Linked DNA regions of Homo sapiens: regions 1 and 3 are each reported to be linked to region 2. The links are microRNA targets in miRTarBase. Many come from high-throughput screens and were not tested one by one. Region 2 holds a microRNA gene; each other region holds the end of a gene's coding sequence.

Region 1 (11,187 bases), not on the chromosome of region 2:
CCACCATGCATGGCTAATTTTTGTATTTTTAGTAGAGACGGGGTTTCACCATGTTGGCCAGGCTGGTTTCGAACTCCTGACCTCAAGTGATCCACCCACCTCAGCCTCCCAACGTGCTGGGATTACAGGCATGCCACAGCATCCGGCCTTAAAGAACATTCTGATTCACAGATAAGACGTAGACACATGTTTCCTATCACATCATGCAATACTTGGATACCACTTTGTTAAAGAACTATGTCACCAGTTTTATTGTGGGGTCCTTGCAAACACAAGTTTGCTTGGCAGAAAAATGGAGACACTGATCATTTGTTGTAATTGGGTATTAAACATCAGTTTGCATTTTTAAATTTACATTAACATTTTTAAAAATAAATGTTGCATCAAGTATTTATAGAATGAGGCTTCTGGGACTGGAGAACTAGCTCATTTCAGACCAAATCACTACAGATAACAATTATGAACTGGACAAAATACACCTCACAGCCATCGAAGGCATTGCACAGAAATCAAAACCAGAAACACATGAGAGGGGAGCTGACGCTTGGCAGAAGAAAAAGGCTTTGCATTTCTGATTATTAAAGGCATTTTGGTGAGGGCAGGCCCTGTTCTGCCAAGCAGGCAGCTAAGCCTGAACAGAAAATCTGCAGTCTTGGCTGGCTGACTTAACCCACCATCTTATTGGCTTAAAAAAATGAGAGGGCTGAGTTCAGAGCGATCAAAGAAGATTGAAAGTGAAGTGTTCCTACAAACAAGAGCCAGAGGGGGATCCAAAAATTCTGTGTAAAACTGCCTGAGTCTCTGTTTGATTCTGTAACCAAGCGTGAGCCAAATAAACTCCAAACAGCCTGGCTAAGGTTAAAAGAACTTAAGAAATTTCTGCTATTGTCTATTGTGTGTGTGCTGGGTGATGGGGGCAGGGAGGAATTGAGAGTTTAATTCTAGCCATGTTAACTGTCTTCTTTAAAAAAAAAAAAAATCAGTACTTTTTGGAGGAACATAACAGAATCGAGAGTCTCTAAAATGTATCATTCACCGAGTTTACAATACAATCCAAAACTATTAGGCATGCACTCAAGAGTGAAAACACTCAATAGCGACTGATCCTGAAAAAAAAAAAATCCAGATGTTGGAATTAGCAAAGATTTTTAAAGAGCCAGTATAACTATGCTCAAAGATGTAAAGGAAAATAAGCTTATAATAAATGAACAACAAAAAAGAACCATTAGGACATTCTAGAGTGAAAAAATCCAATGTCTGAAATAAAAAATTTACTAGATGGGCTTAAGAGCAAATTATATAACAGATGACAGAATAGAGTCAGTGAACCTACTCTAAGTGTATTTTACATTATAAATATTAAACTCTAATGATATGTATGCTGAAGAATTCGGGGTGAAGAATACACATTACTTTGAAATGCATAAAAGATAAGAATTGATGAACAGATGGAGAGGGGTATATGAGTGTTTACTGAACAACTTTATTGTAGATTTTAATTTTTTTCATAATGAAACAGAGGGTGAGGGATATTTACCTAACTCTGAAAGGTGGAACAGGAGGACCTTGAACTCTTGAAAATTCAAGAGTCAAGAGACCAAGCTTTGAGCCCCCATCAATGGAAGCAATGGCCTTTTCCCCATCTTTAAAGGTAGGAGCTAGACTAGCAGAGCACTAAGATGCCTTCTAAATACATATAAATAAAACGGACCTAAGATCCTTTCTAAGATTAGTGCCATCTAAGGCATGAGGCTATCAAGATCAATTAAAAAACCAATAGGCTGTAAATATGAATATTTTGATAGGTGTGCAGCTATGGCAGACATGTCATCATGGTGGGGTTTGTTGGTTCAGAAAGCTCCCTAAATCCCGAATGCTGGGCATGGGAGGTTTCCAGCATCTTTGTATCCCATCTCATGACACTTCTTCCTCTCAGTGCTTCCATTCCACAATACTTTAGTTCCATTCTCACCCCATATTGTCTTTCCCATCTTAGGGAATGCACAGGCTGTTCTCTCTACTGAAAAACTCCTTTCCCTTCCCTGAGCTAACTTCTGTTCATTCTCAAATCTCAGCTTCTCTTGGCCCACTGAGATTGGGCACTTCTCATTCTGCCCCAAACTTCAGCACATGTCAAATGATCTAAATTACTTATTCGACAATATTTAATGTCCTTTTTTCTCATTAGATGAGCAGCCCCATGAGGGCAGGGCCCAGCCTGCCACTCTTTTTCAGCCAGTGGCTTGTAGACGAAAGAGGTGGGTCACAACCACTGGGTGTCTGCTTAGCACCAGGCACTCTTCCAAGTGTTTTACACATATCCATGTATTTAAAAATCTTATTAGGCTCACAAACAGTTGTTGAAGAAGCCTCCCCTTTTTCCCTATGAACAACAATCCCTAAATAACTATTTGAAACCTAGAAAGTGCCAGGCACTGTGCTCAACACACAGGATACAGCAGAACAGGCCCCTTCCTGCCTCCCAGAGCTCAGTCTGGTGGGGAATACACACCATAAAGAGGGAGCCACACATCAGATGACAAGTACTAAGGAGGAAATGCAAGGTCAAGGTATTTGGTAGAATTTGCCATGTTTAAAAAAGTTGCTCACACTTTACTTTTTGCTAAAGAAAACCACTCAGGAATCCATCCACTCATCTAATCATGCAAAAAGCAGCTGCTCATTGTCTAGGAGACTGGGTGCTGTGCCAAGGCTCTCAGGATGCAAAGATGACTTACATCTACAAGGAGCACACAGTCCAGTGAAAGGCTACACACAGAACCAGCCATCATACCACATGATGCGTGCCATGGTAGAGGTACACACCGTGTGCATCAGGAACTTGAAAGCAGCTTCTACAGGAAGCCTGACCTCCAGTCTGGCTGTCTCTGAAGTATGTGGCCACACTTACCCACCCAATCTCGACTCTCATTACCCCAACATGTGATTCTGCCCCAGAACTGAGTTTTCTATCGACCAAGGTCCCTGAGAGAGTAACTTAGCTTCACTCTAGTTTTCCCACATATGAAACAGAATGTTAAGGATTATTGTAAGGATTAAATGAAAACATCTCATAAGCAATACATACATACTACAGCGTGTTATTCACTTTTACCGTTGAGAGTAAATGTGGTTAAGACCCTCTTGCCCCAGGCTCTATCCTCTCAACAGGTGGCTGCCCTACTCCCAGCATGGCCTTTTCTTTCTAACCAGACTAGTGCTGCCCCGAGTCATTCAGGAATTCAATCTGAACTCTTGGTGACACAAAAATTATGTAGAAATTTAAATGGAAACCAAAGTAGTGTCTTCTGTTGTCTAATAAGGAAAATGCTAAACAAAAGCAAAAACAAAAAACCACTTAACACCAAGTTCTCTTCCAAAAAAGCCAAACATACAACACTGTTATTAATAAGCAAAACCTCTTAGGGTTAAAAGTGTAATTTTATTTAGATGTTACTTGTACATAATCTATAGTAAGATATACAAACAGATAAAAATTGTTTAACAGTTTTTTTTAATACCACTTTAAATTCAATTTACAACAGCATTGGTAATACTGCAAGATGACAGATACTATGATTTATAAAACAAAAATTACTTGCTACTCTGGCTGATACATTCCCACTAGTCTTTAATGGATTAATATGTATCATGTATTTTAATTGCAAATTATTATAAAACTTTTACAACCTAGCCACTTGGAGCTCAGAAAACATTTTGATGTTCTAAAAACTTACTGAGATGAAAATGTTAATTTTTGAATAGTATCCTTAGTAAAGAAAAACATCAGTGTAGCCAAGCTTACGGTCTGGGGCTGACAGTGCAAACTCACTTGCCTTGTGCTCCGCCGCCTCCTGTGTGCGCAGCCATCGGGGACTGGGCAATCTTCCCATCCCTTCCCTAGGTCTACGCTATGAGAGAAAAGCTTAGGAGACATTAAACTAAAACAGACGTGGAGAAATAATACGAGGGACAATTTAAAATTACCTTACAATTTATAACTATAATTTAAAACACAAAGTTTGGAGAAATGAAATGTGCTTTTGGATGTTTCTTCTCCATTTGTTTTGGTAAATAGTTTTTGAAAATGAAACTGAAAATTCAAATCTTCTCTTTATTCTTTTCATTGTAATACCATATTAGAAAAGATCTGGATTTAAATTTCAGAATAAATTGAATTTGCTGGAAAAATACTCTAAAAATAATCTAAATTGGATTTCAGTCATTTTCCATTCTTTTAAATGTTATGGTACACAACAGGGCAAAAGCTTTTTCGCAAGTCATAAAATTGAGTTGAAAATAACTTGTTGATTCAGCTACAGGAAGACAACTAACAATTAACAGGCTCATGAATATTTATGAATAAAGTGCCACTAATTTTATTGTAATAAGATATAAATAGAATAAATCCTGACATGGATAGTAGCTTCTGTGTTCTCTCCATCCTGAGAACAGAAGGGCCATAAAAAAACAAAGAAGCATTACCAAAGGGGAGTTCTAGACCCACACGGGGAACTCCTAATACAAAAGCAACAAGAAAGACAAGTAAGACTTTAAAAGTTGCAGAAGTCCTAAGAATAGCGCCAATGTAGTAGGCCCTTTTTAACAACAACAAAAAAAAAAAAAAGAGAGAGAGAGAGAAATTAGAAATTTAGAAGTTCATTAATAACTGTTACTTATATTCAAGGAATTTATAGTGACAGCCTAGTGGTGACCAGCTCTAGGAAAAGACGCTGAAGAGGACGCTCCCAGCACCTGGGACAGAGGAGAGAACAGACACACCAGGGAAGCAGCCTTGGAAAGGGGATGCAGACATGAGGCTTTTCAGGGCTTCAGATCTACATGACTGCACCCAATGGACAGGCTCTGTACAATCACTGCCCACAAGCCCAACAGGTAGCCACTCGAGACACACACACTGAGGGGACTTCGGGGCTGGCTGACTTGCTCAGATGCATTTTAACAAAAACCCCCATCACCATCCTGCTCACATTCCTACCGTCACCTCAAACATCTCTGCTTTTAGCTCCAGATTCTTCTCAACATAACTGAGTAACTAACCACAATGGATATGAAATACTGTTGAGTAGGTTAAAGTCCTTAATAAGTCAAGCGTCTTAGCATATTTTTGAAGTCGTATCTATAATCAAAGCCTGGAGCACCTGTTTGTTCAACACAGTTATCTTTCATCCAGAATTACAAAATATAGAAGCTGTCATTCTTGAGTTTCCCCATGGGTCCCTGGTATTGCCCACGTGGGAACAACAGGAAGGGTGGAGGTGAGGGCACAGCACTGTACTACAGCTGCAGGGCTGATCAAGGGAATCTCATGAGGTGCTTTTTATCATTTAATGTGCCAACAACAGGAGGACAACCATGTGCTTCTAGAACAGGGTGAAGGCCCTCCTCACGGGAGTGATCCCTAATCTGGCCCCAGCACCGTGAAAGGTGAATAGCTGTCAATATCTACTTTCACCTAAACCTAAGCTTTTAAAATTCTGACCAAGTGGTGAAAGGTGCCATCTAAAGTGCTCTCTGTTGCTCGCTGAGGAGCTAAGAACTCCTGCGGCTCACTCAGGACACAGGTGTCAGGAAACTAAAGGAGCAGGGCTCCTTTGCAGCCCAGGCCCTGTGCCGCAGCTCTGCCCAGCTCAGCGGTGTAGCTCCCAGAGTCATGGACTGCTCGCATCTGTTCTGGCCGGCTGGTGCCCACACTGGAGAGACTGGCAAGTATCTTGAGTGTCATCCCCAATGGCCCCAGGAAGGAAAATGGACTCTGTTCTTCACTTTCATTACTGTTGAGCTGCTGAATTCTCTTGCAAAAACCATCAACAGGCATTTACTAAGCAAATGCCCACAGGGAACCCAGCCTGAAAAGGGCCCTTCCAATTTCATATTTGACAGGCATGTGCAGAGGTAATGAAATTATTCAGCAGAGCATCAGATTCACTCAGAGGCTACCAAGCCAAGAAACTGAAAGCAGAAACACTGGATTCTCCCTGTTTGTTGAACCTTTCCCTCTAAAACCAACTTATTCAGAAACACATCCTTTAAAAAAACAAAAGGAAAAACCAAAGCGGTGAAACAATATCACTTACTGGTTGGAAGACATCACTCTGACATAGTCATTAGTCTTGCAGAGACCTAACACCAGGCAGCTTCACAAACACACAGCAAGTCTGCAGAGTTATATTGATCAGTAAGAGTAAACCCAAACTGCACTAAATACTCTCATGGCCAAGAGGAAAGCAGATGCTGTTTTCAGGACAATGTGATAGTGACAGCCTATTTCCTCATGTGCAGCACAATTTGCTATGTTTAGTGGCACTTAAGTATTACACAGTAAATACTGAAAAGACCCAGAATTTTTGGATGTGCAGAAGCAATATCACATTGTTTATACAAAAGGTGCTATGCTACGGGATTAGAATACCACTATTTGGGTGTAGAGACCACTTAAAATCTTCAACACGCTCCCACACGCGGCCTCTCCGCCGGCCTTTGCTCAGTCGGACCAGTCGTTCTCGTCGAACTCTGAGTCGTCGTCAGAGTCGCTGTACTCCACGGCAATGCGCCGGGACAGGATCGTGGCCACGTCATTCCCCACTGGCTCCCGCTTGGCCTCCTGCTCCCGCTGCTCCTGCACCTTTTTCAGTTGAATTCCTGCAGACACAACACGTGGTTCAGAATCACATCCTTTTGCTGGCTCCAAATTAAAGATAAACGAACAAATATGTCTATTGGACTTTTTTTTCTACTGACACTAAGGACAGAAAGTTTTAGAAATTTGAGGGGAGAAAAGCTCAGGGAATATTAAAAGTTTCATGAGAAAAAACATGCATTCAAAGTGAGAAGTTTTTTTGTAACAAAGTAATGTGTTAAAATATTAAAAATTCCTAATTTCAGTGTACCTGAACACCATTAGAGAAAACTGTGGAGCTGCACCATCCCAGACAGCAGCCACTAGGCACATATAGCCTTAAAAGCATGAACTGACATGTGGCTAGTGGCTACTCTCTGGGACGCTGCAGGCTGGAGCATTTCTATCACCACAGGACATCTACTAGGCAGCAACAGCATCCAGAGCCTTGGAAACAGTGTTCTATGCTACTCACTCTCAGCTAACCCAAGAAGTAACTGAGAAACCTTTATTTCAACAATTACTGTGGAAACAAACATAAAATACAATCATCTACTTTCTAGCTTAGTAACAAAGTAAGATATTTGATGATTTAATGTTTATCCATTTTTTTTTTTTTTTTTGAGATTGGGTCTCACTCTGTGACCCAGGCTGGAGTGCAGTGTTACGATCATGGCTCACTGCAGCCTCGACCTCCTGGGCTCAAGCAATCCTCCCACCTCAGCCTCCTGAGTAGCTGGAACCACCGGCGCACGCCACCATGCACGGTTAAATTTTGTATTTTCTTTTTTGTAGAGATAGAGTCTTGCAATGTTGCCCAAGATGGTATCCATTCATTTTTTAACTGTTTTGAAATAATTTCAGATTTACAGAACAGCTATGAGACCAGCAGAAAAACATTCCCATATACTTGGATTCCCCAACTGCTAACATCTGACCACATTTATTTCCCAATCTTCCCCTATCATCTTTACACAGACAGACACAGACACTTTTCTCTGGACCATTTGAGAGTGAATGGCATATAATGTCCCTTTACCCCTAAAATAGTTCATGTGTTACCGCCCCCGCCTCGCCCACCCAAAATATCAAAATCACAAAATTAGTTTGGATACACTACTACTATCTATCCTACAAATATTATTCAAATTTTGCAAAAAGACCCAATCTAATTGCAAATGGAAAAGATTATCCCCTGGTTCAGAATCCAGTGGAAATTATCCGTGACATTGGTTGTCAATTTTGTTAATGTCCTTTAATCTGGATAGTTCTTCACAGTCTTTGTGTTTTACAACCTTCTCGTTTTTGAAGAATATAGGAAGCTATTTTGCAGAATGTCTGTCGATTTGGGTGTATCAGATGTTTCCTCGAGATTAGATACAGATTATGTATCTACTCTTGGTAGACAGGGCTTATAAGGTGTTAAAAAAAAAAAAGGCAAATCCAACACCGTCCTACAATGACCCCGAACTTGATATTCATGAGCTAATATACCTCTAGGACTTTTTTATCTTGACAAAATAAAAGTGTGTCAATGATGTCCAGGTACACAGAGGACCCTGGGGTCTTTAGAAGGGTGCGTGGGCCACACTGTGGGCCTGGTTCATGGGCACACAAGAAAAACGCAGAGGCAGCAGCATCACAGCTCCTCTGAAGGACATCCCTGATGCTGAGCTGGCGGGCTGCAGCCAGGCTCCTTGCTTGGTCACTTCCAGATGAGATGACTAAACTGTGACCAAGTCTGTGCAGCTCCCCACAGGCGAGAAGCTCTTGGATATTCCCATAACATGTCAGGGACCCTCGACCAACCTGGGTTGGGACCTGGTTAAGAATCCATGGTGTGGGCTGGAGGTTCCCAGGGGCTCTCTGGGCAGCCCAAGACAGGCGAGGGCAGACTCCCCACCCAATTCCACCTGAGATGCTCTGTTTCCATGTGTTTTGTGGTCAGGGGGTCAACGCGGGACTTTCATCTGACAAAAGGGTTATGCTGTTGAATATTATAGATTCTGAAAAACCACTGGCTTAGGACATCAAGCAAATATGACAAGTCCAGCACAAACTCTTTTTTTTTTTTAAAGAAATCATTAATATGAGCTCACTTTCTTTCATTTATACTTTTCCCCTTAGAGCAGAATGCAGAGAAGAGATCCAATTAATTAATCGATCACTTCAGTTATTGGGTTTCTGGTTTCAAGGTAAGTAAAAACTTCCTAATTTCAATTCTTTTTTTTTTTTTGAGACGGGTCTCGCTCTGTCGCCTAGGCTGGAGTGCAGGGGCGTGACCACGGCTCACTGCAGCCTTGACCTCCCACACTCAAGCAATCCTCCCACCTCAGCCTCCTGAGTAGCTGGGACTACAGGCTCAGGCCAACATGCTCAGCTAATTTTTTTTTGCATTTTTTGTAGGGATAGAGTTTTGCCATGTTGCCCAGGCTGCTCTCAAACTCCTGGGCTCAAGCAATCCAACTGCCTTGGCCTCCCAAAGTGCTGGGATTACAGGCATGAGCCCACCGCGCCCGGCTGTTTCCCAATCTTTATCACAATTTGATTACCTTACACTGGACAAAAACACAACTACTATTCAAAACAAAACAAAAAAATCAAGTAAGACCCCTTTAACTCTATTTTAAAAAACGTAGTGAGTAGTCATTTGAAGACAAGGAGGCTGTAGCTGGCTGGAGACATGAAGAAACCTCTTGCTGAAAGGCAGGCTGTGTGTCTGGGGGCTCCACTTACCCATTCGAATAGCAGCGAGGAGGTCGCTTCGAGCATCACTGATTGGTGGCTGTGCAGGCTCTTGCCGCTTCGCCTCAGCTACTGGGGGGCCATGCATTGGGGAGGACGAAAGAGAAGACCCGGGACCAGGAGGGCCTGGCGGGGGAGGTGGTGGGCCCGGGGGTGGCGGGGCTGTGACCAGGAGCCCGGTGGAGGGTGGGTGAGGAGGAGCTGCGTGCGTGGAGCTGGCTGATGCAGGGAACGGGGGCTGCATGGGCATCTGGAGAGGGCTGACGAAGGCAGTTTGTGCTGAGGGAATCACAGGAGGAGGTGGCGGAGGAGGTGGTCCGGATGGGTTGTAATACTCAATTATCTGCGCTGGGAGCATCCTGAGAGAGATATGAGGCACATAGTCACCAAGGGAACAAGAGAGGGTCACGTCCTGGGAGCTCTTAGACACCTAACGGAGCCATCCCCAGACACAACACGTATTGTCACCTGAACTTCAATCATGGCAGGATGCAAACATGCACACCTTGGGTCAGTTATTTTCACAGTTTGACATTATTCATTATGACAGAAGTCAAGATCTGCTACTGAAATGTGCCAAAAGGAGGACCACTCAAAAAGTGCAGCACTTCCTGAAGAAAGGCAGAATAAAGCAGCTGACTGCAGAGGCCAGGACGGCAGCGCCAGTGAAGGCTTCACACTGGGATCTCAAGGCGGTAGCTCACAAACTTGTCTTTTAAGGGTCCTAAGGTCAACCAGATTGGGAGCTTTCTACATTCTCTAACCCACCTCCGTGGAAATGCCCCATGCCTGCAGTGCCCAGGTGTGTATCAAAAGCTTCGAAAAGTCACACAGCCAAGAAATCTGCTGAATTCTATTCAGCCGAGGGTCTTCCAAACTAACTGGACCATGGGCCCTCTCTTGGCCTGACACAGCCTCAAGCCACTCTGGGGATCCTGACTTGGCATGCATGGCCAGGGAGAGCACTTCTGAGAGCAGGATTGTCATTCAGACAGGGGTGTGCAGACACGTGTTAGCAGTGGACACCAACACACGGTAATTTTCCTGGGCACCAACTCTGAGGAATGAAGTCTTTAAAGACTAGAGTAAAGCCAAAAAAAAGAGAGGTGGGTGCCTAAATTGATAAACGCCTGAACATGAAGTCTCTGAATTCTACTTCTCAGGGAACAGGAGGGCCTGGGGCAGAATGATGTCTGGGTGGTCAGAGGTCACGAAAGCAGATTTTGGTCAAGTCTGAGAAATGAGGCACAGGAGCTGCATGGTGTGGTCTTCTCGTCTGTGATAACAATTTTCTGTGGTCCACTCAGGATGTGTCCAGAAACTTGAGGGTTTGGGACAGGTTCACAAAATCAGCACTTAATACCCTTTATCAATGCCTTGGCTTAAAGAGCCATTCAAACACCCAGAGTGTGTGTGAGGGAACACACATGCATGCACAGTGTGGCCTGAGACTCAACTGTAAGTCTGAGCTTATGCTGCACCTGCTTTATTTCACACAGAATGTTAGAGTTGCTAGTATCTACATCCAGTCATCCTTGACTCTATCTTGGCCTCTAAAATACCGGAGTTAAAATTCTCCTACCACATAGAGCAAGATTCAAATGCAAGGCCAGGAGGGATTAGGGTACAAGGCATGCTGAGTTACCCGTAGTCTGCTGGAGCCATCGGTGCAGAGGCCTGGGACCCCTCTGGGGCCTGAGGGGGAGGCGGGGGGGGCGGCTGCTGAGGTCTGTTGAGGGCCATGTGCCTCGCCGAGGCAGATGGGGGCCGGTACTCATGCTCCGCAGCCTGGCTTGCAGGCC
Region 2 (11,187 bases):
CTCTTTGTGATAGGAGGACCCCTCCAGAGGTGCTGCTGTTCACTGAACTGCACTCACACACGAGAGAGCAGACTCTGAAGAAGGAACTAGCAACACTGATACCTTCAGAACAAAACCTCTCATGAAGTATATGCTATAAGCATCCTTGAGGAAGAAAGACATGTGTAGGCAAGGGCACTTTTATACCCATTGGGGATAGGCACAGGGAAGACCAACATTTCAGAGGTCTGGCACAGGAACTGATTTTTAAAATATCTTTGCATTTCTTCAGAGCCCCAAAACACTGCATGTGTCTTAGTGGCTGCCCACGCTCTGGCTGAGTGGGGCAAGCCAAGCCATCTTCTATGCCAGATGCTAGCAGGAAGTCAAAGCTCCTGCAAGAATGGGAAGGTAGATAACAAGGATCCCCTATATCACCAGGCAGTGGAGTAGATTTGTCCTCCTGCAGGGTATAGTGTTTCTATCAGACAGCTGAAGGACTCCTAGATATTGTTCTCAGGGAAGGAAACAAGCAAGCAAACATTCATTCCTGACTAGATGCTAACTTAACTGATTGCACTGAATTCTCCTAAAACCCTGTATTAATCAGTGTTAGCCTCTTTTCATAGAAGGGGAACTTGAAACTCAGTTTGAAAAATAAGCCTAGGTTTTCTCTGGTACAAAGTAATCTCGAACTTGGAAGTCAGGTAGCCTAGACTCCAAAAGACAAGATTTTTACCCTACTTGCAAGATATAGAAATATGAAGAAGAAAAGAGTTTGGAGATAAACATGTTATTTCAAGGCCTGGCTCTGCCGCCTCACCCTCTGTGTGACTTTAGGAATTGAAAGGAACTCTCTGAGATTCAGATAAAAATTGTTAACACCAGAAATAGAAATAAGGTGTTAGTGCCTGCTTAACGGAGATTCATGAGAAATAAATGAGGGAATGCATCAAATATTCTTGCCTCCCCCTTAATATACAGTAGGAAGATATTAATACTTTCCATGGATTTTAATAATGAAACAGCATGAGGAAGTGTGGACTGGGTGTCAGTAGGAAGGAGATGAAGAGACTGGCTTGAGGATCTATTTTTATTCTAGCATTTTAGGAGAGCAGAACAGAAGGAAGGTGAATTGAATTTTTTTTTTTTTGTAAAATAACTATACGAGACAAGTAGGAAGAAAGATGTAGATGGGAAAACTATTGTTTCTAGAGATACTAGATAAAAAAAAAAGGCCCCAACTTCACACTTGAGAAACGATGTTATTTAAATTTATTTTGATTACATACTTAAATTAATGACTTTAAAAATTAGCCTACCATGGTGGCACACACCTGTAGTTGCAGCTGAGGCAGAGGGATCACTTGAGCCCAGGAATTCAAGGCTCCAGTGCACTATAATCACAACCTTAAATAGCCACGGCATTCCAACCTAGGCAACATAGCAAGACCCTCTCTCTATTTCTCTTAAAAAAAAAAAAGCTTGCTTGTTTAGTATTTCAAATTATAGAAAGACACCTAGCATAATGAATAGGAAGGTTGTCTGAATATAAAGCAAACAAATACCTTGAATAAATATGTCTGGATTGAAATTGCATTGAATATATGTATCAGTCTGAGAATTGCCACGTTTTAGATGTTGTGTTTCCCTTCCACAAATATAATATATATTTCTTTTTAATCATGTCTTCTTTTATCTTCTTCAACAAAAAGTTTTATAATTTCTTATATAACCAAATTGTAGTTTTTATTAGGTTTATTTCTGGTAATGCTAGTAATTTTTGTTGCTAGTATGACTGAGATCATTTTTCTTTTCTTTTTTTAAATAATTTCAACTTTTCTTTTAGATTCACGGGGTACATGTACAGGTTTGTTACCTGGGTATATTGTGTGATGCTGACGTTTGGGGTATGATTGATCCTATCACCCAGGTAATGAGCATAGTATTCAATAGGTTTTTAACCCTTGTTCATAACATCTCCCCAACCACCCACAGTCCAGTCCCTTATAACCACAATTCTACTTTCTACTTCTGAGTAGATAGGGGAAATAAGTTCAAGAGATTTATTGTATAATTTGATGATTATAGTTAATCACAATGTATTATATTCTTGAAAATTAGTAGCAGAGTAGATTTTAGGTGTTCTCACCCCCCAAAAAATAAGTATGTGAGGTAATGCATGTGTTAATTATAATTAGCACTATTTAGCCATTCCACAATGTATACATACTTCCAAACATATTGTGCATAAGTATATACAATTTTTTCAATTAAAATTAATTAAGTATATAAAATTCATGACATTAAAAACGATAAAGAAAATCAATGAAACCAAAAGCTGGTTACTTTTTAAAAACTGATGTATTTCTAGCTAGGGTAATTAAGGGTGAAAAAAGGGAGACAAAGAAAAAAGTTAACAATATAAATAATAATGGATGCAGACATTAAAATGATAGTAAGAATATTAAGAACAACGCCATAACTATAAATTCAAAATTGAAAACTGCATACTACCAAAATTCACTCATGGAGAAATAGATAACCCAATTAAATTATTAGTTAATAACTTAAAAAAAAAAGCACCAGGCCCAGGTGGTTTCACTGGTAGATTCTTCCAGACATTAAAGGACAACATAATACCAATTCTACACAACCTCTTTCAAAAATACAAAAAAAAAAAAAGAATCTTTGCCACTCAATTTTATTAGGTCAGAGTTATCCTAATATCAAAACCAGACTAAAACATTACAACAAAAGAAAACTAAAGACCAATATCACTCATGAACATAGAAGCAAAGATCCTTAACAAAATATTTGAAATAAAATCCTGTAATATACAAACAGGATAATACCTCACAGCAAAATGGGGTTCATCCTAGGAATACAAGGCTAGTTCAACATTTATAAATAGATCAATGTAATTTATCATCTCAATGGACTGAAAAATAAACACTATATTATTATATCAATAAACAAAAGAAATTATTCGATAAGCTTCAAAACTCATTCATGATTAAAAAAAACTTGGAGTGAAGTGCAATTTTACCTTACCTACATACCTAACAAAGAGTATATATGGAAAACCAATAGCTACTATCATACTTAAGGCCAAGAGACTGAATGCTTTATCTTTAAAATCAGACCACAAGGCATGAATGTCCTTTCTCACTGCTCATATTCAGCATTATAGTGGAAGTCCCACCTAGCTCAATAATGTAAAAATAATATTAGTTATACATATTGCAAACAGATAAACTCTAATTGTTGGCAGATGACATGATAATCTATGTTGGTTTCACTAAAAAGCAGAGACTGGGTTATTCGTTCAAATTTCATAAACAAATAGTATTACGTTACAGTCTTTGTGTTTCTGAATAAACCAGAAGTCAGACATATGCTACTGGTAAAAGAAAGATGTTTGCTTAGGGTGAAAAGAGCGTGTTTACAAAGAATGTCTGAAAGGAAAAACTCAAATCCTCACTTCCCAGAATGAATACCAAGGTCTGTGGCCTTTAAAAAGGTGTTAAACTTCTTTGCACTCTGGGTTTCTCTCCAGAAATATTCTGTAGCCCTTTTGATTTATGCATTGTTTAGAGCAATAATATTGTCTGCAATATGCTTGGTGAGAAACAGCTGCTTCTCCAGTAGATGACATTATCCTCAGCTGTTGAATGAACATTCATTCCTAGAACACAAATAAGAATACCTAAGAATAGCTACATCCACACAACTGGCAATAAAAATGAAGGAAAGTAGTGATCATCTTTTTCAACAAGGTAATCTTTTTTGATGGAAAATTCCAGAAAAGCCATTCCACATGCAAAACCCCAAAACCTTAGCAGAGAAAGGTCCTTTCCAACACCTCACAAGATTGCTTTCCAAAACGTCTTTAATCAAAGCCAAGTGCTAAAGTTACACAAACACAGAGAAACACACTGGGCTGAGTTACACCTACAGTTTCTGCTTCCCTATAGAACTGGAAGTTCTTTCCCTGCTTACAGTTTCTAGCTTCTCAAATGAAATAGCACAACGCTTGGAGCCTGATTATTTTAGGAAAGGTCAAGTGAGCCCAAATGCTAATAGAATTTCATGAAACCAAAGAGATGGCAGCTTCCCAATTCTAGGTGCTAAGCTAAACACACTGGGGTTAAAACATAACCACATCCTTGCTAAGGAGAAAATGGTCAGAGTGGTCAGGCTTACTGTGTAAGCTGGTCATGTGATGCCCACACAGTTTTATGGTCTTCTTATCATTGTTACTGGTCTGCAGTTGGAGATGAGTCAGTGGATAGGAGTGGGAAAAGACTTGTCTCTCTCACACATAGAACCCTGAGGAAGGAGTAATCAGATTCATGTAAAAAATGAAGAGAGGAAAAGGAGAAGGAGTGTGCACTGTTAATTTTGGAACCCCAATTGGGATAACTCATCAATGCTCATCATCCACTAGCACGAAGCCTCATGGCTTTAACCATCATATATCCATGTGGTAGTTCCTTTGCCTGCCAGGATACGTACTCCAACCCCACACTCTATTACTTTCTCCCCATATCTAGTCATCCTTATTGCCTCACTCCTCTTAACTCTTCCATTCACCAAAATTTCCCCCACCTCCTCTCCTTTTCTAAGCTAGACTTGCTTCCTAGCCTCATTTTTAGAATTCTCCTTTCTCAAACGCCTGTTGCTGAGAAGGGAGAAGATAATCTTTAGTTTTGGAGGAAGGAGAGGTGGAAAAAGTCACTGAAATGTTGCAGTCTCCTGGTGGCAGATTATTATTTTCTTTCTTTCCTTCTGATAGTTACTTAAATTTTTTTTTAAATGTGTATTTTTAAGTCCTTTATTATGCTCGAAGAGTTTTTAAATTTTGTTATGTTTTTGTTCTAGTGAGGAAATATATTATATTGTAAAGTTAATTTTAATTATATTATCCCAATTTAGGAAATAATTTGTGAGTTTGTTTTCCTTGCTTGCTTGCTTACGGTAATTTGTGGGAAATATGTCATTCTATCACATCGATTAATTAAATATCCCTGTACATTTGTACATAGTAAAAAAAATTACTGAATAAAGCAAATATTGAAATGTCACACCCATTGGAAACATAGCACTACTATGTCATAATGATAAATCTTTTCCATACCTTCACTGGATGATTCAATTCGATTATTTAAGACAATAATTCAACATCAGAAAATTAAAGAAAGAACCAAAGTGATGACAGTAAATGCTTGGTAATGATTAGTGACTCCTTGCCAGCACACAGATTTCATCACCCGCGTAATTCTTATTTAGCATGGACCCTCTTCCAAGTTATTAGGATTCCTCAGTGATATTCAAATTGAGTAACAAAAGAAATTGGCTCAGTTTATCCTCTGTTTTTATCACTGCAAGCCTAGACATAGTGATTAATCCAGAAATAGCAATTATTTCCTATTTTCCCTAAAAATAACACTTAGAAGCTGGGCAACTCAGCTCTGAGACTCAGATTGTGCAGTTTGACATCTGATGATTATAATGTCTGCTGACCTCAAACTGTATTGTATGAATTACATAATAACCATGCATACAAAAGAAAGCAGAAATCATGAGGAATATTATAGTATAAAATCATTAATGTTATTTTCTTAATTTCTGCAGAAGTATCTATGAACCTTAACTCTGCTTATAATATTTTTGCCATAAAGTAGAATTTCTTTTCATTCCATACAATACCTCAATCTTTTCCTTTATAGCTTTCTTGTTATCACTCATAGGAAGTTATTTTGCTGAAAAACTATGTAACATTCATGAATAATTTATCTTAATTTTTTTCAGTCTCTAATATTTAATTCAGCTATAATTTTGTTATAAGGTATGTAACTTAGTTATCAAAAATATTTTTCCCTGGCAAATAATTCCTCAGTTGTCTTTTGAAATGGCAACGCCAAAATTGCTATCACCATTTTACAGATGAGTGACAGTTACTCACAGGGCTAAAGTGATAGACAGTGGTGTGGGCACCAGCTCAAACCTGCTCTCAAGAGGCAATTGCAGGTAGCATTTCTGAACTCCATATTCAACAAATTGGATATGATGGAAATACACCATGAAAATCAGCAAATACTACAAGCTTTCAACTTTCCTCCCTCCCTTCCTCCCTCTCTCCATCTTTCCCTCACTCCCTTCCTCTCTCTCCCTCTCTCTCTATTCCCCCCTCCCTTCCTCCCTCCCTCCTTCCCTTCTTTTCCTTCCTTCCATCCTTCCTTCCTCCTTTTCTTTCTCTTTCTTTCTCTCTCTCCCCATTTCTCCCCATTTCTTCCTTCTTTTTCTTTCTCTTTCTTTTGGTTCCCTCCCTCCCTTTCTTTGTTCCTTCCTTCTTTCATTCCTCTCTCTCCTCATTCCCTTCCTCCCTTATTCCCTGTTCTCCTCCTCTCCTTCCCTCCTTTTCCTAGGTTTAAGGGCTTTGCAAGTTCTCTTTAGTGCACCTGGGTTGACCTGATTTTGTTGTTCTCTACTATGTGGTTTGGGATGTGGTTTCAAAACTCATACCACCGCAACTTATTCATTCATAAAGATCTCTATTTCATTTGAGTAATCATTATGACTTATTGTAGCACTGGAGGACTGAGGAGTGCTTTGGGGCCAGAGGTTGGGTAATACTTAAGAGGAGGTGTTGTCAGCTGTTTGTTAGAAGAGAGACTTGCTGTCTGAAACTCAGTGAGTTGTTGCCTACAGGTCAGTAGCAAGGCCAGGAACATGACCTTGGATTTAAGATTTTCTGTCTTTTCAATGGAAACAATATGCTGACCATTTCTTTCACTTCGTAATCCTTCATCACATAGTCTCCCTTCAGAAGGTCTTCTCAACCACCACTGACATTGATTGCAAAGATTTTTAAAATTCTCATCACTTTTTCTCTCTGGTCTGACACTAGGGGACTGCTTGTTTGGCCTTACTCAGCCTAGTTGAGCTTATATTGAGGTTTATACTCTATTAGATGAGGGGATGGGTTAACAGAACAAAATAGTTCTGGTTAGTTAGTTCTATTAACCAGTCCCCTCGTCCAATAGAGTCAAACGATTCTGAATCACTGTTGGCCATTATCACTCTCATCACTACTCCAGTCTGACCAACTTTTGCATAGTTATATATATAGTATGTAACTTAGTTATCTAAAGTATTATATATATAATATTATATATATGCATATATAGATAGATAGATAGAGAGAGAGAGAGAGAGTCTTTCTCAGTTGTCCAGGAGTACAGTGGTGTGATCATGGCTCACTGAGGCTTGGATGTCCAGGCTCAAGCGATCCTCCCACCTCAGCCTCCTTCCTGGGTAGCTGGGATTACAGATGTGTGCCATCACACCTAGCTAATTTTTAGTAAAGACAGTCTATGTTGCCCAGGTTGGTCATCAAGTTCTGAGCTCAAGGGATATTCCCACCTTGATCTCCCAAATGCTATGATTACAACAGGCCTGAGCCACTGCACCTGGCCGCAAAGCAATCTGTAATTGTTACAGCTTACCCTGTGAGGTGTAAAGTTGAATTGGAGGTGGGGAAGAAGCATCTCTGACAATACCCCACAGCTTTGTGTAATCCCACAGCTTCTTGCACAAGAGCTTGCATATAGCTGGAGTTCAAGAAATATTTGTGGATTGGATGGATGTACAAATGAATGACAGTAAAGAGGCTACATCTGACAAGGGAGGAGGAAGCTGGGCAATGAGGATCCAGGGGACACCAGTAGGGAGGTACGGATAAATCTTTGAGATGGGAGAAAGGAGAGGCTGAAAGCGATAAGGATATAGGAAGCCCGATGCAGGCAGAGGACAGAATCCAAAGAGTTGCACACAATGCAGGTGTGTAAATGTGGACATTTAACAGGGATGGCATATTTAAAGTGGTATATTTTGAGATTTTCACTTGTTTTCTTTTCACTACCAACAAAGCTGAGTGTAATGATTAATTCTTGAAGATGTCTAAGCCAGGAAAGGGAAAAGAAAGTATTCATAACTGTCAAACAATGAATAATGGACATTTATTTGACAGTTCTTGAACATTAAAATTGAGCTAAGTTCTACATTATAATATGAAGTAGTTATAATAGGCATATAATATGTTTCCAAACATTATATGCCATTACTATGATGTGAAAATAATACCAAAGATCAGTACTTTCAACACCTGAATCACTTTGTGGTTGCAGTGCGGCAATTCTATGTACTGATTGTCTCTGAGTTTTTAACAGTGTAAGATGGTATAAAAGTCATCCATGATATCTGTAGTATTATCCAACTGTGTGTCTCACCAGCTGTGTAACTTCAGGTTAGTCCTCACTACCTCTCTGGGTTTAAATTTCCTAATCTTAAAATGAGGTCCAAGCTGGAAAATCCATCAAGTTCCTTTCTGGTCTAGCATTCATTGATTCTAGGATGTAAGATTATGCCGCGTAAATATGGACAAGACTTTCTTTTTCATTCCCCTCTTTCCATGAAGACAGGCTCCTTCTCTCTTCATAAACCATGGACTTATCCTAGGTCAAGGCTTCCTGGTCCACAGGAGACCCCTGGCGGCCACCCTGGCGAATTCTCTTGATAGATGTTACCTCCCGCAGTTCCGAAATCTTTAGAGGGTTTTTGATGCCCTAGAAAGCTTCCTATCTTTGAACTCTTAACACCTACAATTGGGTTGATACTACTTTGAGTAATCTTTTTTCACATATGCACAAACCTTTCCTTTTCTCTTACAACCCTTACCCCAAGAAAATATTTTTTCTTTTCCCTTTACTCTTTAATTTCCCTTCCTGTTTTATTTCTGAAATAAAATTGGGTGATTCTTCTTTCATTATTTAAATGATTTCATTTCTAAAAAATGTAATAACTTCTTTTCTGATTACGCAAGGAGAAGCATGCTTGTTGTGGAAAATTTGATAAGTAATAAGAAAATAAATTAGACACAATACAGGCATACCTCAGAGGTATTAGTGGGTTGGTTCCAGACAAATGCAACAAAGTGAATATTGCAATAAAGCAAGTCTCATGAGGTTTTTGGTTTCCAAAGTGCATAAAAAGGTTATATTTACACTATACTTTAGTCTATTAAGTGTGAAATAGCATTATGTCTAAAAAATATATACTTTAATTTAAAAATACTTTGCTGCTAAAAAAATGCTGATGATCATCTAAGCCTTCTGTGACTCATAATCTTTTGGCTGGTGGAGGGTCTTGCCTCAATGTTGATGGCTGCGGACTGATCAGGCTGGTGATTGCTGAAGGTTCTGATGGCTATGGAAATTTCTTAAAATAAGACAGCAATGAAGTTTGCTACATCAACTGATGCATCCTTTCATGAAAGATTTCTTTATGGCATGTGATATTGTTTGATAGCATTTTACCCACAGTAGAACTTCTTTCAAACTGGAGTCAAACTTCTCAAACCCTGCTGCTGCTTTATCAACTAAGTTTGCATAATATTTTAAATCATTTGTTTTCATTTCAACAATGTTCAGTATCTTTCACCAGAAGTAGATCCCATCTCAAAAAAATACTTTCTTTGCTCATCCATATGAAGCAATTCATCATTCACTGAAGTTTTATCATGAAATTGTAGCAATTTAGATACATCTTCAGACTCCACTTCTAATTCTAGTTCTCTTGCTGTTTCCACCATATCTTCAGTGATTCCTCCATTGAACCCTTGAGCCTCTCAAAGTTATATAAGAGGGTTGAAATCTTCTCCTAAATTCCTGTTAACTTTGATATTTCAGCTTCTTCTCATGAATTATGAATGTTCTTAATGGCATTAGAATGGTGATACTTTCTTGAAGAGTTTCAATTTACTTTGCCCAGGTCCATTGGTGGAATCACTGTCTATGGCAGCTACAGCCTTACACAATGTATTACTTAATTAATAAGAATTGAAAGTAAAAAATACTTCTTGATTCATAGGCTGTAAAACAGACGTTGTGTTAGCAGGCATGAAAACAACAATAATCTCCTTGTACACTGCTATCAGAGTTCTTGGTTGACTGGGGACATTTGTAAATGAGCAATAATATTTTGAGAAGATTCCTTTTGAAAGGAATCTTTTTTTCTGAGCAGTAAGTGTCAACAGTGGGATAAAAATATTCAGTAAATCAGGCTATAAATAGATGTGCTGCCATCCGGGCTTTGTTGTTCCATTTATAGAGCACAGGCAGAGTAGATTTAGTGCAATTCTTAAGAGCCTAGGATTTTTAGAATGATCAATGAGCATGGGCTTCAACGAAAAGTTGCCAGTTGCATTAGCCTCTAACAAGGTAATCAGCTTGTTCTTTAGAACTTTGAAGGCAGGCATTGACTACTCCTTTTTAACTATGAAACTCCTAGTTGGCATCTTCTTCCAATACTATATAAAGCTGTTTCGTATACATTGAATATCTATTGTTTAGTGTAGCCACATTTATCCATGATCTTCGCAAGATTTTCCAGATAACTTGTTACAGCTTCTACATCAGCACTTGCTGCTTTAGCTGGCACTCTTATGGTATGGATACTTTTTATTTACCCTTTAACATGATAAACCAATATCTGCTAGCTTCAAAATTCTCTTCTACAGCTTCCCCACTCTCAGCCTTCAGGGAATTGAGGAGACTTAGGACTTTGCTCTGGATTAGACTTTGGCTTAAGAAAATGTTGTTGCTGGTTTAATTTATCCAGACCACTTAAGCTTTCTCCATATCTGCAATAAGCCTGTTTCATTTCATTATTCATGTGTTCACTGGAGTAGCACTTTTATTTTCCTTCAAGAACTTTTCCTTTGGATTCACAACTTGGCTAACTGTTTGATACAAGAAGTCCTTCAGCCTATCTCAGCTTTTGATATGCCTTTTTCACTAAGCTCCATCATTTCTAGCTTTTTTATTTAAAGTGAGAGATGTGTCATTCTTCCTTTCACTTGAACACTTAGAGGCCATTGTAGAGTTACTAATCGGCTTAATTTCAATATTGTTTCTCAGGGAATAAGGAGGCCTGGGAAGAAGGAGAGAGATGGAGGAATGGCTGCTCAGTGGAACAGTCAGAACACACACAACATTTATAGATTGTGTGCCATCATTATGGACACAATTTGTGCTGTCCCAAAACAATTACAAGAGTAACATCAAAGATCATTAATCTTGGATCATCATAGCAGATATAATAATAATAATAAAGTTTGAAATGTGTGAGAATTAACAAATGTGA
Region 3 (10,268 bases), not on the chromosome of region 2:
GAAAATGTAATAAAAATATAACAAAATTTTTTAGATATTAAAATTAAAAAATATTTTAAAGAATTTGTTATATCATATAGGTAATATGATATTACTAAAAGTTTAGAAGGACCAAAAAGTCTGACAAATTGTATTACTCTTATGAAACAACTATTGAAGTTATACATTCCCTTTCAATCTTGTTGATATGCATGTTTTTATATTAATTGTAATTATAGTGTACATACATTTTTGTTTCATCCTTTTTAAAAATTTTAAGTGATAACTGTTACTGGTGGAGGGTGTCCAGGTTCTTGGCGTTTTGAACAAAGAAGTGGACAAAACACACAAACAAAGCAAGTAAAGAATGAAGCAACAAAAGCAGAGAGTTACTGAAAATGAAAGTACACTCCACAGGGCGGGAGTGGCCTGAGCAGCCACTCAACGGCCCGATAGGGAATCTTCTTGGGTCCAAATAGCCCCTAGAGGTTTCCCATTGGCCAGTTGGTGTTCACTGCATGTAAATGAAGTGGTGGCCTGCAGTCAGTTTGATTGGTTGTAGAAAGCAACCAATCAGAGATACTTTCAATTTTCCATCCGCCATGCAGAAAAGCGGGGTTTGCAAAGGGAGTAGCCTCGGGTCCTTTTGCTACTTAGATGTGGAAAGTTGGGGTTTTCCTTTTGGTTTAGTTCTAGGAAGTCCGTGTGAATTGACCTGAGGTTGCCTGCCTCCAGACCCTACCTGCCTTAAAACAAGTGTTACAGATGCTATATTATTTTCATATTTATTATTTTTAAATCAATTTCATTATATATTCCCGAGTGAATTGTAGCATAATTTATATTTCTCCTTAATAGCAAGCTTTGAGAGTTTACATTGAAACTGTACTAGTGTGCATTTTGAGCAGATAAATTCAAGACTGTTTTGCATGTTGCTGTATCATCCTGTTTGTAATTGGATACATCTCTTATTTCATAGGAGAGATCCTGCATACAGTACATTCCCGCCAGAAGGTGTTTTCGTAAATACGCTTGGCCTTCTGATCCTGGTGTTCGGGGCCCTCATTTTTTGGATAGTCACCAGACCGCAATGGAAACGTCCTAAGGAGCCAAATTCTACCATTCTTCATCCAAATGGAGGCACTGAACAGGGAGCAAGAGGTTCCATGCCAGCCTACTCTGGCAACAACATGGACAAATCAGATTCAGAGTTAAACAGTGAAGTAGCAGCAAGGAAAAGAAACTTAGCTCTGGATGAGGCTGGGCAGAGATCTACCATGTAAAATGTTGTAGAGATAGAGCCATATAACGTCACGTTTCAAAACTAGCTCTACAGTTTTGCTTCTCCTATTAGCCATATGATAATTGGGCTATGTAGTATCAATATTTACTTTAATCACAAAGGATGGTTTCTTGAAATAATTTGTATTGATTGAGGCCTATGAACTGACCTGAATTGGAAAGGATGTGATTAATATAAATAATAGCAGATATAAATTGTGGTTATGTTACCTTTATCTTGTTGAGGACCACAACATTAGCACGGTGCCTTGTGCAGAATAGATACTCAATATGTGAATATGTGTCTACTAGTAGTTAATTGGATAAACTGGCAGCATCCCTGGCCTGTTGTCATGCAGTCATTTCCTGTTAATTCTGGGAGACAATGATTTCACAACTAGCGGGAAGCAGTCCTAAAAGTTTAAAATCCGATAAGGAATATCTGGGACAGGGTTTAGATCATGACTCTACACAGATACCATGATGAGAGTATATTAAAGAAATTTAGGAAAGCACCTGGTTCCTTTCTCCCCATGCCTGCCTTCTGCTCCCTCCCCAGCTGGTTTGGGCTCAAATTGTCCCTGGAGACTAGGGTTTATGTTAGGGTATTGATAGATTAGAGCAGGTGGTTGAAGAGATCTTCTCTGGTCAGACTTGGAAGAATTTCCAAAACTGAAGTTAGCCCCAAGACTTCCCTAGGGTTGATGTACTTTATGATCCAGATGCTAAACTTCTTAGAATGAAAATATGCTTCAACACTTAAGTAGCATACACTGCCCTACAAACCTCAGAGAGCACTTTTCCCCAAGTTCTTGTTTTTATTTTTGAAAGTACTCACACAGCACTTACTATGCTCCAAACACTCCTCTAAGCACTTTACACATATTAGCTCATTCAGTCCCCAGACAGACGGGATGAAGTAGGTATTGTTACTGTTCCCATTTTACAGGTGAGAGATTTGAAGCCTGGGGAGGCTAGTAACTCACCCCAAGGTCACACGGCTCATACATGGTGGGACTGAGACTCAGATGCAGGCAGTCTGGCACCTCAGTCTGGATTCTAACCATTTCACTAAGCTATTTTTGTCTTGTACTACTTTGACCCACCCCTGAATAAACCTCAATTGCTGGAGTGGGGTGTAGTTATTAAAGGGATGCTTTTTACCTTTTGCTGTTTGCTGTGGCAGATTCCCCAGATAACCAAGGAAAAGGGGCCACCCATACCTGGAAATAGGCCATAGGGCCCCTACTACTGCCAACAAGCCATGGCCTACCTTGACACTTGTTTGATCTTAAAATTGTGTCTTGGTAACAAAAGATTTGGACAGGCATATCTGTAGCTTTCAAGTTAATTAATTGCAATATTTTTTTCTTCAGGATTTTAGCTGCTGAACAACTTTCAGTTTGGAGCTAAAAGAGACCTGTCTCATGGTCTGCCCTTCCCTGGGGCAATAGCTAGGGTCTTTCCTGATTTTTATGGAATTTTAGGGGATATTTTGAGCTTTGGGTTCTCAGTAGTGAATTGAGACTTGGAGGTGACTTTTCATGTTTGGAGTATCATCTCTGTCTGGGATCTGGGCTGACAAATTAAAACCTAGAGTAGTGCTTATGCTGAAATGATACTTTTCATTTTTTGGTTGATTTTTTTGCCTTCCCTTCAATTTTAAACTGAAGCATTTTAATATGGGTAGAAACTCTACACCAAATACACTAAACATTTTGGTGCTTAGTGGATTTCTTTTTAGGTAACTGGTACTTACTTCCAAAGACTGAATACAAGCCACACTCCATCATATCCCTTAAACTTCATGAAAAACCATTCAAGATCCCCTTGCTGCAACACTGTTCTCTTCTTCTCTACTAAATTCTATTTCCAAAATTGGTAATAGAGCCAGAAGGATCCCCAGTACCCAGCCCTCTGCCTGGCACAAAGTGGTAGCACAATTAAATTCAGTATGGGTGGAGCATGGTACAGTCTTGGTGCCATAGAAGGAGTAGTTGCATAGTCACACATCATTTGATAAGTTGGATGTTCCATTACATAGAGGAACACAAAATTCCAGGGTTTTTGGAGGAAGGGATTAGATAGTGACTAAGCCGCCAGAATTGAGGTGGCCATTCCTTTTTGTATAGGCTAAGAAACAGGTTATCAGTGAAAAGTTAATTATGGCTTTGGCACTAGAATAGCACTGTTGCAAAGTATTTAAGCACCCCCCATCTCAGCCCTTTATTTTATCTTTCATGTGGGCTAATGTGAGGATAATCTTACAGATATTATAGGAATTTCTTTTCTATCTTTATGAAAACAACGTATATAAAATATATCTAGAAAACCTTTGTTTGAGACTCTTATTTAATGGGCTTTTGATTCTAATGATAATTGTACCTTTATCTTTCAAAAGCTGATATTTCCTACCTAAGCATCTCCCGAGAAAAATATCTCATTAAAAAGCCCATAAATAATAGGGGAGAAGAAAGCCTTAGGTATCAATTCCAAAACAGTGATTGAAATTTCCCAAAATAATTATGGCTTCTGTCATCTCCAGAGATAATCTGGCTTGGTTTACCCCATAATCTAATTTCAGAAAAGAAAGCTTTATTTTAACACTCATCTGAATCAACATTAAAGCCTTTTCTCTCAAAGCGTTTATTGAGAAACTCAAATGAATATACTTTTTGAATTACTGTCATCAAAAGTGTACGGCTTCCTGTGCTGCTTGTGTCAAATGGAACCTGCCCTCTAAAGCACTTTCTTTCCTTTACTTGCGTGGTTTCATGTAAGCTGTGCTGTTTAGAAACAACATCTCAGACTTTACAAAGAAATGACAAAGAAGGCAATTGCACTTTTTAAGGGATATCGACAAGCAGTTTCTGTTTTCTAAAGGACAAAATACAGAGTGTGTGTCATTTTTAATTAGATTCTTTCCCCTGCTGAGTTGGAAATTCCAGTGCAGCACTGATTGACCACAGTTGCCAATCTAAAAGCACAAAGACAGAAGTAAAGCTTTATGCTAATTTTATTTCAATATGATAGAAAATTTATCTTGGTATGTCCTTTTTTAGATAACTCCAGCAGGAAACTGTAACTGCTATGTCTTTAGGAAAATGTAGAAGAAAGAACATTATTGTTCTTTAATTCCTACAAGGTACTCGAAAACCTTAAGTGAAAAAGATTTCTATCTTTTTATCTTAGCGCATTTATGGAAAAAATATTAACTATCCTGAATATTTTATAATTTTGTAGGAAAAATATGCATCTATTTTTTCTTGACTTCTTTTATATAGTAATAAAAGTTATTTTGGAAGCTCTTTGTGTGTTATCAATTTGTCTGGGGTAGCAGGGGTAGGCATTGTTGTGAAAGTTTCTTTGCCATGGTTTTTGGTTTGTTTATTTTTCAGCAGAGATAGTCTTTTTTCAGTTTCTTGATTATGTTAACTGAAAAGCCAGACTCTGTAATGTATAATACATATTTTATAATATTTACTATTAATATTATATATTTATATATAATATTTACTATAAATATCATATATTTATATATAATATTTACTATAAATATCATATATTTATATATAATATTTACTATTAATATCATATATTTATATATAATATTTACTATTAATATTATATATTTATATATAATATTTACTATTATTATATATTTATATATAATATTTAATATTTTATATATATAAAATTTTTCGCAGTAAAGAGTTTAATTAATGCAAAGCAGCCAAGCAGAAGGACTGGAGTTATCACTCAAATCAGTCTTCCTGAGGGCTCAGAGGTTAGGGTTTTTCAATGATAGTTTGGTGGGCAGGGGCAAGGGAATGGATGCTGCTGATTGGTTGGGAATGCAATCATAGGTGTGTAGAAAACAATCCTCATGCACTGAGTCCCCCTCTGGAGGAGGGCCACAGGACCAATTAAGTCATGAGTCACAAGTCCAGATGGGGTCAGCTCTTCACTACCTGACCAATCTTAGGTTCTACAATAGTGATGTTATCTATAGGAGCAACTGGGGAAGTCACAAATTTTGTGACCTCTGGCCACTTGACTCCTGAGCAGTAAGAGATTAGAGAAACTGATGCAGGTCAGGGGAGCCCCAACGTGGAGCTTAGCCCATGTAGGTTTTTGGCTTTGCCCAGGAAAGAATTCAAGAGCAAGCCAGAGGTGGAAGAAAACAGCTTTACTGAAGAGGCAGTGTTACAGCACCATGACTGCTCCTGTAGAGCAGTGCTACCCCCTAGGCAGAGAGTAGCCTGTAAAATATTTTAAAGAGGTTTATTCTGAGCCAATACAAGTGTCAATGACCTGGGGAACACAGTCTCAAGAGGTCCTGAGAAAGTGTGCCCCAGCAGTCGGAATTACAGTTTGCTTTTAGATATTTTAGGGAAGCAGGAGTTATAGGGAAAGGCATAAATCAATGCATGGAAGGTATGCAGTGGTTTGCCCCAAAAAGGTGGGATAACTTGAAACAGAAGCTTAGTTTATAGGTGGATTCAGAGACTCTTTAATATGCAATTGGTTAAAGGAATAGAGCTCTGTCTAAAAATTTGGAGTTGGCCGGGTGCAATGTCTCATGCCTGTAATCCTAGCACTTTGGGAGGCTGAGGTGTGAAGATCACTTAAGCCCAGGAGTTTAAGACCAGCCTGGGCAACAAAGTGAAACCGCATCTCTAAAAAAACAAAATTAAGAAGTTATCTAGGTGTGGTGGCATGTGCCTGTAGTTCCAGCTACTCAGGAGGCTAGGGTGGGAGGATCACTTAAGTCCAGGAAGTCAAGGCTGCAGTGAGCCATGATCATGCTACTGCACTCCAGCCTAAGTGACAGAGCAAGACTCTGTCTCAAAAAATAAAAATAAAAATAAAAAAATAAAAAAAAATTTGGGAGTCAACAGAAAGGAATATTTATGGAATAGCAAATTATTCTACGTAGTGGTTCTCTGCTAGGTTTAAGACAAATTTCTGCCCTGTAATAGCTACAATAAGGTCATGAGGATCTGGTAAAACATACTCAAATATCCTACCCAACTTTCTACACCTTGCTGAATTCAGCATCTCCTCTAAAACTCAGATTTTAGAGCTTTTCAGCTCCTGCTTCATCTCCTTTGCCCCTGCTCCCACCACGCCTCAGTCTGGGTGGAATGTTTCTCCTCACAGCATTCAAAGAACTTGGTTCCTGCCTCTAGCCCATCTTTTTTTTTTTTTCAGTTGCAAGATTTAATAGAGTGAAAACAGAGCTTCCATAAAATGGGAGGGGACCCAAAGGGGGTTGCCGTTGCCGGCTCGAATGCCTGGGTTTATGTCCCAATCATTGTCCCTTCCCCTGTGCTCTCACGTGATAGATGATTGGCTATTTCTTTACCTCCTGTTTTAGCCTAATTAGCATTTTAGTGAGCTCTCTTTACTACCTGACTGGTCTGGTGTGAGCTAAGTTGCAAGCCCCGTGCTTAAAGGTGGATGCAGTCACCTTCCCAGCTAGGCTTAGGGATTCTTAGTCAGCCTAGGAAATCCAGCTAGTCCTATCTCTTAGTACCACCTCTCAACAGGAAAACCCAAGTGCTGTTGGGGAGGTTGGCCAAAGACCGCTCTAACTGCTTCCTGCTGAATTGGGACGTAGTAGGGGTCGTGCAATTGAGATTTCCTCGGGAGGCGTGCCTTCGATGTCATTAACATCAGAGCATGGGCTAGCAGGCCGGTCCAGGGGTCCACGGTAGATCTTAGTCATGGACTGCTTCTGGGGCTCCATTTGAAGAACGATTTGTAGTTTTACAGCTTCGATTCTGGAAGAGACAAACTTAACAAGGAGGTTAAAGATACAGGGATTGAAATGTATGGCCTGCAGTGCAGGAGATTATTTCTTTGGCACACTTCACAGGCCCTGACTATCTGCTTGATAGTTTTGAAAAGGCCTGGTCCCATAAATAATGATTTGGCCATCTGATGGGTGCTATCAATGGCTAAGTGAAAGGTTTGGTGAAGGGTTTTAAGTAATTTCCATTGGTTAGCTGCAGGCAAAAGTATTTTCCCTTCTTTGGTGGCTAGCCATCCTGAGGGGAGGAAACTATGTCCCCGTGAGGTTCCCCATTCTATTTCTCCTGCTGAGTACAGAGGGGATTACCCCACACTAGGGGTCCTTCTACAAGCATTTCTAATGGAGGGTCCCACCTTGTGGCTCTTTTGGCTTCAATATCCACTTGGCAGTTCCCTTCCGATGACCCCGACAGTGTAAGACTGCCACCTCTTTAGGTTTCTGTACAGCTAATAATAATCTCCTAATGGCTTCCTGATGTTTGATAGGTGTTCCCTCGGAAGTTAGGAATTCCCTTTCTCTCCATATTGCTGTGTGGGCATGGAGGACTAGGTAAGCATACTTAGAGTCTGTATATATATTTACCCTTTTTCCTTTTTACCCTTTTTCCTTCTTCTAATTCTGGTGCCCAAGTGAGGGCTATTAGTTCTGCCAGCTGAGCGCTAGTTCCTGGAGTGAGGGGATTACTTTCAAGTATTCCATTATCACTGACCACTGCATACCCCGCTTTTCGAAGTCCTTTTTCTACAAAGGAACTTCCATCAGTATACAAGTTGAGGCCAGGATCAGTCAAGGGAATCTCTAGAAGGTCCCCTCGAGTGGTGAAGGTTTGAGCAATTACTTGTTGACAGTTATGTTCTATTTTTTTCTTCATTGCCTGGAAGAAATGTGGCTGGATTAAGAGTTGCACAAGTGTGCAGTCGCAGCACTGGTCCCTCAAGTAATAGAGCCTGATGTTTAAGCAAATGGTTGTCTGACAGCCACAAGTCTCCACACAGTGAGATCTCTTCCCTGTATCATTTTAACTGCTTCAGATACTAAGACTGCTACTGCTGCCACTACCAGTAAAAAATGAGGCCAACCCGTTGTCACTGCATCAGTTTCCTTACTCAAGTATGCCATGGGTTGCAAGCTGGTCCCTCGGACCTGTGTAAGGACTCCTAGAGCTATTCCTGTTTTTTTCTGTTGCATATAAGGAAAAGTCTTGCCCTGTTGGCAAGCTTAACACTGGGGCTTGGTTAGGGCCTTTAGGGCCTGGAAAACCACTTCTGCTTCAGGTGTCCATCTTACTAAATGGGTATTGGCTTTCTGAGTTTTCTTAATTAGTGTATATAATGACCTGGCTATTTCGCCGTACCTGGGAATCCATATTCGGCAGAAGCCTGTTATGCCAAGGAACCCTGTTAGTTGCTTTAGTGTTTTGGAATGAGGATAAGCCGGTATAGGCTGGATACATTTCTCACCAAGGGCAAAACTTCTGGTGAGTGTACTCTTTCTGCAGGAAGTAAAAATGGCCTTACTAAATAAATTAAATTTATGTTCAAGTACTATTTCTTTACAGCACCTGGGAACAAGCATTTCAAACAACTCCTTACCATTTATTCCCCGGGTCCACATCTCTTCTTAAAGGAATGTGGACTTTCTTCCATGATTATCGGCTGTATGAAGAACTGTCTTGGAACCAAGAGAATACATCTTCATAGGATGCAGGCTTCAGGGAGCTAGAATAGAGGAGTGGGGAGCACAAACTGAAAAGGGTTCCCCTCACTCACTACAGAGGCACAACCCGTAAGGCCAGCCATTCTAAGGACAGGCCAATTTGGGTGGGTGAGGATGCTCGATACGGGAGCGGTCCAGGAGCACATGTCTGCCGACCTTTGTTCATGTCAGAGGTAGCCCACAGGGCAGTGCTCATTTATATCACCAATCCATAAGAATACATTTTTGTTTTGTCAAAAAGACAATGTCTATAGAATTATCTGAAACCTGTTTTTTCAGATCTGACTAGAGTGAGTTAGCTATGATCACTTTCCTTCTGGTAGCCACTCAAGGGGCGTGATAGGCGAGTGAGGTTTATAGAGTGAAAGGAAGACGGCTCATGCAGGATTTGGCTGGTGAGTGTTCTATTAGGGTGAGAATTTTGGAAGGAGAAGCTTTCTGATTGACTTTCAAATACAGTTGGCAATCTGGTTGGTATAATATCTACTGGTACATAACTAGGAAATTTCTAGGCTGAGTGGAATAGTATGAGTTTTTCTGTTTCAACGGGAAGAATATCTGGTTGTCAGCCTCAGGGTCAGAACTGTACATAAGCAATCCCTTAGTTTGGTGAATGTTATGGCAGAAATTTAGTCTGAAGTCTAGTCCAAATAAATGTTTTCTATATTCTCATATCTATTTATATGAATCTTATCACATTAAGGCTAGACTGAGACATGTCACAAATTTCTCTCTTGTGGAATGAAGGTGAAAAAGAGAAATATAAGCATTGGGTGAATGTTGAAATGGATAAGTTCTGAGATTCCTCTTAAAGTTTAGATTCTGATGAGATTTCCTGAACAGGTGCCTCTCTTGTGGCTCAGGTACCAGAGGGACTCTGTAGAACTCCAGGGGGCCAGGCCCTAGCTCAGCCCTGGCACACACAGGCAGGCCCTAGAGTAGCCACTAGTGATGAAGGAGGAGGGCAGGAAGCATCCTTGCCCTCCCCAACCCACGACCTGGCTCCCTGTCTCTATCAGCGCTCACATTCCCCATTCAAACCTCTAGGTCTTGAGCAGATTGTAGGAGGTTCTGGCCCAGTGAACTCACCTGGAACACTCAAATGAAGGAAGTAAAAGGGTGTGAGGCAAGAGGAGCAGTGACAGCCTTAAGTGTGAGCTAATTCACCCCAAGAGCAAGCAAAAGTGCAAATAAAACTCAAGGGTGTGGAAAAGTGTGGAGTGATGATTAGGATTCAGGCCTCTCCTTGCCTAGCCTTCCTCCATTCTCTCTCTCTCAACCTCTCACTCTCTCTCTCTCTCTCTCTGTCTCTGTCTCATTTAACAGAGCACTGGATTGCGAATGGAGTGCAAGTAGAGACTGAGAATCACCACTGTAGTGATTGTATCTGTGTGGCAAATCATCTTAAAGATTTCTTGTATTTGGAAACAATGTCTAATAAAGAATGGCCAAATACAAAGTTACACTATACAAA

Evidence for each region. Region 2 holds the annotated microRNA hsa-miR-4652-5p (AGGGGACUGGUUAAUAGAACUA, at 6,997-7,018, opposite strand). A microRNA usually pairs through its seed, bases 2 to 8, with sites in the 3' UTR of a target mRNA and lowers its output. Matches are read on the target gene's strand: a 7mer-m8 pairs with bases 2 to 8, a 7mer-A1 pairs with bases 2 to 7 and ends in A, and an 8mer does both.
Region 1: the mRNA of WASF3 is a reported target of hsa-miR-4652-5p. Seed matches in the 3' UTR shown: 7mer-m8 at 4,923-4,929 and 7mer-m8 at 3,872-3,878.
Region 3: miRTarBase lists CYBRD1 as a target of hsa-miR-4652-5p. Seed matches in the 3' UTR shown: 8mer at 2,157-2,164.

What each region holds. Positions count from the first base shown.
Region 1 is chr13:26,681,164-26,692,350 of GRCh38, reverse strand. It overlaps WASF3 (WASP family member 3), which reads right to left. Exons shown (of 10, transcript NM_006646.6): 8 at 11,031-11,187; 9 at 9,377-9,744; 10 at 3,403-6,663. The coding sequence ends at 6,506. LOC107984597 (a long non-coding RNA gene) reads left to right here. Exons shown (of 3, transcript XR_001749798.2): 2 at 8,768-8,835; 3 at 9,936-11,187. Among named protein-coding and RNA genes, the nearest start is that of GPR12, 74 kb to the left of the region's middle.
Region 2 is chr7:93,712,768-93,723,954 of GRCh38, reverse strand. MIR4652 (microRNA 4652) reads right to left here and starts at 7,027; the gene lies at 6,950-7,027.
Region 3 is chr2:171,553,566-171,563,833 of GRCh38, forward strand. It overlaps CYBRD1 (cytochrome b reductase 1), which reads left to right. Exons shown (of 4, transcript NM_024843.4): 4 at 959-4,564. The coding sequence ends at 1,262. Among named protein-coding and RNA genes, the nearest start is that of CYBRD1, 36 kb to the left of the region's middle.